Homo sapiens: one gene and its partner. The gene in region 1 interacts genetically with each later gene. Each region holds a gene or a part of one and is shown in the gene's direction. Other genes may lie near its edges.

Region 1 (2,439 bases):
AGTCTTCTGCATATTTTCCCCTTTTGTGAACAGGTACTGGTGGAGAATGGAACAAAAGCTGGGCACAGCCTTCTCATGGATGCCAGGGATCTGGTCCTTAAGGTAAGGCTTCTTCTTCCCTCACTCCCCCACCCATATGGCACCAATTACTGTTACTCTCTTGAAAACGAAAGAGACTGTCATGTATTGACAAGGGTGGCTCTCAGGAAACTGGGCGTATGAAGTCATTATGATACAGAGCAGTGGTTGGCAAATGAGAGCCTGTGGATCAAATCCGACCTGCCACCTGTTTTTATATAAGCCATGCTTATTTGTGCCTCTGTTGTCTGTGACTGCTTTCACACTACAAACAGCAGAGTTGAGTAGTTGGGACAGAGATAGATTTTGCCTACTCTCTGGCCCTTTAAAAGAAACTTTGCGGACTCCTAATCTAGGGCATTGCTGAGCTAAGAACCTTGTCACTGGGGGAGAGTATGAGCCAGTGTATAATCATAAATTTAATTGTCCTGGAGTGGGATTTTTTTGAGAGTGGAGGTTGCTGACAAGGGAGAGCACCGTACTATGTGCCAAGTTCTTGCCTTTCTCCTGCAGCAAAGAGAAAGTTCTTTGTTTGGAGTATTAAAGATGCAGCCAGCTTAATTCAAAGGACATAGTCAATCGTTATTAGAATTGAGTGTTAAAGGAGTCCTCAGTTTACTGAGTGCAGAGATTGAATTATGAAAATAGACCCTTGGCCCAGCTTTATTTCTTTTATTTCCTTTGATTTCAGGGAAAAGAGAAGTCACCTTTGGACCCTCGACCTGGTTTTGTCTTTGCCCCGGTGAGTATTACTTCTGCCTGTCCCACCACACGGATCTGAACTTAGGCGTGGCCGGGAAATGTAAGATGGTAAAGCTAAGCCACTCTCCACTACTTTGTGTTCCTATCCAGTTCCTACCTAATGATTCCCCTGGCTCTTCCTACCCACTGCTCCTGTCCTCCCTTCTCCCTGGCCCCTTTTGACTCTATTATTCTCAGTTTTTAAGTTTTGTGATTGATGGCTCTTTTGTCTTACCTCATTTTTTTATGTGTTCACAGTGTCCCCATGAACTCCCTTGTCCCCAGTTGACCAACCTGGCCTGTAGCTTCTCACAGGCGTACCATCCCATCCCCTTCAGCTGGGTAGGTACCTGGGGATATTGCAGCAGGAAGCAAACATCCTGGAAAAACAGGAAGAAAAAGAATCAGAGTTAGGAGGAGTTGGATAATTTGTAGAATAGCCTGGAGACTTTAGGGCCTACATGTATATGATTTATACATTGTAAAAAAGGACTGCAGGAATGGGGAAGAAGGGACTGTACAAACTTTTTTCCCATATCTTTTTCTTCTAAACAGTCTCTATGTTCCTTATCTTAGAACAAGAAACCAAAGGAAGAAAAGTTCTCTATGGTGATCCTTGCTCGGGGGTCTCCAGAGGAGGCTCATCGCTGGCCCCGTATCACTCAGCCTGTCCTTAAACGGCCTCGCCATGTGCATTGTCACTTGTGCTGTCCAGATGGGCACATGCAGCATGCTGTGCTCACAGCCCGCCGGCACGGCAGGTATGGGGGGTGTGACCAAAATCAGTGGGATGTGGCAGGAAGCTGCAGCCCACGCCAGCATCTGTTTCCACAGGGATTTGTATCGTTGTGCCCGTGTCAGCTCCTGGGGAGATCTTTTACCTGTGCTTACTCCGTCTGCGTTTCCTCCATCTACGGCTCAGGATCCCTCTGAGAGTTGATGAGGATGTGTAACAAGTATTTTCTTCTATCGTGCCTGCCAGGGCTGAAGCTGCCTGGTATCCAGGAGGGGAATGCTGGTATCCCCATATGTCTGTGTTTGTTTGAGATTTTTAATAATAAATAATAAATTTTTGAAGAATGGAAGTGGATTTTGTGATTCTTAAAAAGTGTAGAAGCTGGGCACGGTGGCATGTGTCTGCATTTCCAGCCACTCAGGAAGCTGAGGCAAGAGGATCACTTGAGCCCAGGTGTTAAGGCTACAGTGAACTTTGATTGTAACACTGCACTTCAGCATAGGTAACAGAGCAAGACGTCCTCCCTTAAAAAAAAAAAAAAAAAAAAAACATGTAAAAGGTATAGTTAATTATCCTGGCCTATCCTGTAATGAAGAGCTTCCTCAGATTTTTGGTGCCAGGCTTCCCACACAAATCTCAAGCTCGCCCTCTCCTATTGTGGCAGTTCAGAGCTCCATAAGCTCTTCGCTGTAATGATGAATGTGTAAGCTGATCATTAAAGCAGAAGTAGAAAAACCAGATTTCCATAAGCCCTTTGCTATAATGATGAATGTACAAGTTAAACATTAAAGCAGAAGCAAGAAAAATGGATAAGGAATCGGGGGAAACTGGTGCCTGAGTACGAAAGCCAGAATACAAAAAAAGCAAGCCCTTTAAAGCCCCAC
Region 2 (3,661 bases), about 69 Mb from region 1:
TAATAGCCTGAGGTATGAAGATTGTCTCAGGTTACCTAAACTTTTGGCATATAACTTGATTCTTAACCCTCTATACCTTATTGGAATAATATGGCTAATTGTCACTTATGTGTATGGTAAAACGATTACATTTATTTTCATTTGTTATTATTATTATTATTGAGACGGAGTCACCCAGGCTGGAGTGCAGTGGCATGATCTCGGCTCACTGCAACCTCCGCCTCCTGGGTTCAAGCAATTCTCCTGTCTCAGCCTCCCGAGTAGCTGGGATTACAGGTGCCTGCCACCACACCCGGCTAATTTTTGTATTTTTAGTAGAGATGGAGTTTCACCATGTTGGCCAAGCTGGTCTCAAACTCCTGACCTCAAGTGATCCTCCCGCCTCAGCCTCCCAAAATGCTGGGATTACATACGTGAGCCACCACACCCAGCCTACATTTACTTATTATAATCATATTTACTTATTAAAATTGCAGGAATGTGAAACAAGTCAGGTTTTTAATAACATCCTAAAAGATAAGGAAAATTGTACCACCTGAAAATAGATGATGGTGGTACAGAAATAAATGTGTGTTTTAATATGATTTTCATGTGATTTTTTTTTCCTGCTATTCTAACAACTCAAGGACAAGAAAAAGAAATATGAACCTCCTGTACCAACTAGAGTGGGGAAAAAGAAGAAGAAAACAAAGGGACCAGATGCTGCCAGCAAACTGCCACTGGGTAATGACATGGCTTCTCCTTGCCATCTTTCCAGTTCTTAGGATAAACCATCTCTGTGCATGTAGCTTAGAGTCTGAAAGGGGTAACAGGAAGTAGAGGGGCAACTGAAGCTCTAGCTTTGTGATTCATTTCTACCTCACTCTTGAGTGTGGCATTCCTCTAGGTTGGCATACAAGTTATCTTTTGTTTTAAAATACAGTATTATATGATTGTGTCTCACTTTAAGAAATGTCACCGTGGCGGGGTGCGGTGGTTCACGCCTGTAATCCCAGCACTTTGGGAGGCCGAGGCGGGCGGATCACAAGGTCAGGAGATTGAGACCATCCTGGCAAAACACGGTGAAACCCTGTCTCCACTAAAAATACAAAGAATTAGCTGGGCGTGGTGGCGGGTGCCTGTAGTCCCAGCTACTTGGGAGGCTGAGGCAGGAGAATGGCATGAACCCGGGAGGCGGAGCTTGCAGTGAGCTGAGATTGCACCACTGCAGTCCAGCCTGGGCGACAGAGCGAGACTCCGTCTCAAAAAAGAAAAAAAAACAAAAAAGTCACCATTTTTCTTTAACTGGCTCCTCTAGTGGATTGAAAGTATAGTTTTAACTCGAACCCAGGAGGCAGATTGCAGTGAGCCAAGATTGTGCCACTGCACTGTAGCCTGGATGACAGAGCAAGACTCTGTCTCAAAATAAATAAATAAAATAAAAGTATAGTTTTAAATGACAAAACCCAGGTTGAACTTTAGTAACTAAGAATCATGTTTATTTCATGAAATGAAATGCCACTGTATTGAAATTCAGATCATGCAAGCCTGAAGTTATAATAAAATTTTTCAATGGCTTCCTGCCGAACATAGAATAAAATTCATACCAAGTGACCTGACCCAGCCCACCTCTCCGACCTCAGCCCTGCCACTCCCCCTTGCTCATCGGTCACACTGCCTGCCTTATGTTTTTTTGACTTTTGTACATATCAGGGCCTTTGCCCTTACTCACTCCTCTGCTTAAAATGTTCCCCCAGTTCTTCTCATGGCTACTTGCTTCTCATCCTTTAGGCTTCAGCTCAAATACCTCCCCAAATGCTCATCTAAATATGCTCTTCCCTGCTTAGAAGAAAAAACTAAGAAGAAATACTTAAACTACTTTAAAAAATATTGTTCAGTTAATTGAAGGAAATCAGTAAAACCAGCCATTGGTCTACCATAATGAATTGGTATGGTATTGGTACAGAAAGAGGCCACCAGAACAGAGTAGGAAGTCCAAAACCAGTCATGTTACATGGATATTTAATATACATTGAAGGTGCCACTTCAGGTCTGTGGGGAATAGGGTGGGTTATTTAATATAAAAGGCATTTCCATCAGAGAAATGCAAATCAAAACTACAATGAGATACCATCTCACACCAGTTAGAATGGCAATTGGCAATCATTAAAAAGTCAGGAAACAACAGGTGCTGGAGAGGATGTGGAGAAATAGGAACACTTTTACACTGTTGGTGGGACTGTAAACTAGTTCAACCATTGTGGAAGACAGTGTGGCGATTCCTCAAGGATCTAGAACTAGAAATACCATTTGACCCAGCCATCCCATTACTGGGTATATACCCAAAGGAATATAAATCAAGCTGCTATAAAGACCCATGCACATGTATGTTTATTGCGGCACTATTCACAATAGCAAAGACTTGGAACCAACCCAAATGTCCATTAATAGGCTGGATGAAGAAAATGTGGCACATATACACCATGGAATACTATGCAGCCATAAAAAAGGATGAGTTCATGTCCTTTGTAGGGACATGGATGAAGCTGGAAACCATCATTCTGAGCAAGCTATTGTAAGGACAGAAAACCAAATGCTGCATGTTCTCACTCATAGGTGGGAATTGAACAATGAGAATACTTGGACACAGGGTGGGGAACATCACACACTGGGGCCTGTCGTGGGGTGGGGGGAGGGGGAGGGATAGCATTAGGAGATATACCTAATGTAAATGACGAGTTAATGAGTGCAGCACACCAACATGGCACATGTATGCATATGTAACAAACCTGCACGTCATGCACATGTACCCTAAAACTTAAAGTATAATAATAATAAAATTAAAAAAATATAAAAGGCATTTCAAAAGTTTTTGTCCAGAGAAAATGAAATTAGATTCTTGACTCTTGCCAAATGGAATACAGGTATACATGTGAAAATAAATAAATGAAAATTCAGAAATATATTTAACCTTAGGGAAGAAGACAGTTTTTGAAGTAACTTGGAAAACCCAGAAACCATAAGAGAAAAGGTTGACATATTTATCTGTAAAAATGATACAATTCCCAGCACTTTGGGAGGCTGAGGCAGGTGGATCACGAGGTCAGGAGATTGGGACCATCCTGGCTAACACGTTGAAACCCCGTCTCTGCTAAAAATCCAAAAAGTTAGCTGGGCGTGGTGGCACACACCTGTAATTCCAACTATTCGGGAGGCTGAGGCAGGAGAATCGCTTGAACCCAGGAGGCAGAGGTTGCAATGAGCTGAGATCGCGCCGCTGCACTCCAGCCTGGGCGACAGAGCAACAAGACTCCGTCTCAAAAAAAAAAAAAGACACAATTCTTACGTGGCTTGAGACTTCAAAGCCAAAAGAAACAATAATGTATGGAAAAAAAATATTTGCCATATATGTGATAAGCAGGGTTAATATCCCTGATATTTCAAAATTCTACAAATAGATGAGTATGTATATAGCCAGCATACAACAGTGTATACTGCCTGAGCAACATATGTAACTTTTTATTAGTACCTATGGGAAAAAATAAACCAGACCCAGGTATCTGATGGGTCAGTAGCTTTTTTCTTCTTTAAGTATACAGACTATTCAGCCAGGGTGTGTCATTTGGGGCTAGCTATTTGGTCATAAACCCCATCCCCATTTTGAAGGGCTTGATTATATAAC

The links. Genes that interact genetically often act in the same process or in processes that back each other up.
Region 2: changes in METTL17 (region 1) and PSMC1 together harm fitness more than expected from each alone (negative genetic interaction), as found in Homo sapiens cells (one large-scale study listed by BioGRID).

Annotation. Positions count from the first base shown.
Region 1 is NC_000014.9:20,995,132-20,997,570, forward strand, and holds the end of METTL17 (ribosome assembly protein METTL17, mitochondrial isoform 2 precursor), read left to right. Parts: intron 1-33; coding exon 34-102; intron 103-705; exon of another isoform or gene 706-769; coding exon 770-820; exon of another isoform or gene 821-1,077; coding exon 1,078-1,161; exon of another isoform or gene 1,162-1,199; intron 1,200-1,395; coding exon 1,396-1,580; coding exon of another isoform or gene 1,581-1,653; coding exon 1,654-1,759; 3' UTR 1,760-1,904; downstream 1,905-2,439. UniProt on the Homo sapiens protein: Mitochondrial ribosome (mitoribosome) assembly factor. Binds at the interface of the head and body domains of the mitochondrial small ribosomal subunit (mt-SSU), occluding the mRNA channel and preventing compaction of the head domain towards the body.
Region 2 is NC_000014.9:90,259,489-90,263,149, forward strand, and holds part of PSMC1 (26S proteasome regulatory subunit 4), read left to right. Parts: intron 1-626; coding exon 627-723; intron 724-3,661. UniProt on the Homo sapiens protein: Component of the 26S proteasome, a multiprotein complex involved in the ATP-dependent degradation of ubiquitinated proteins.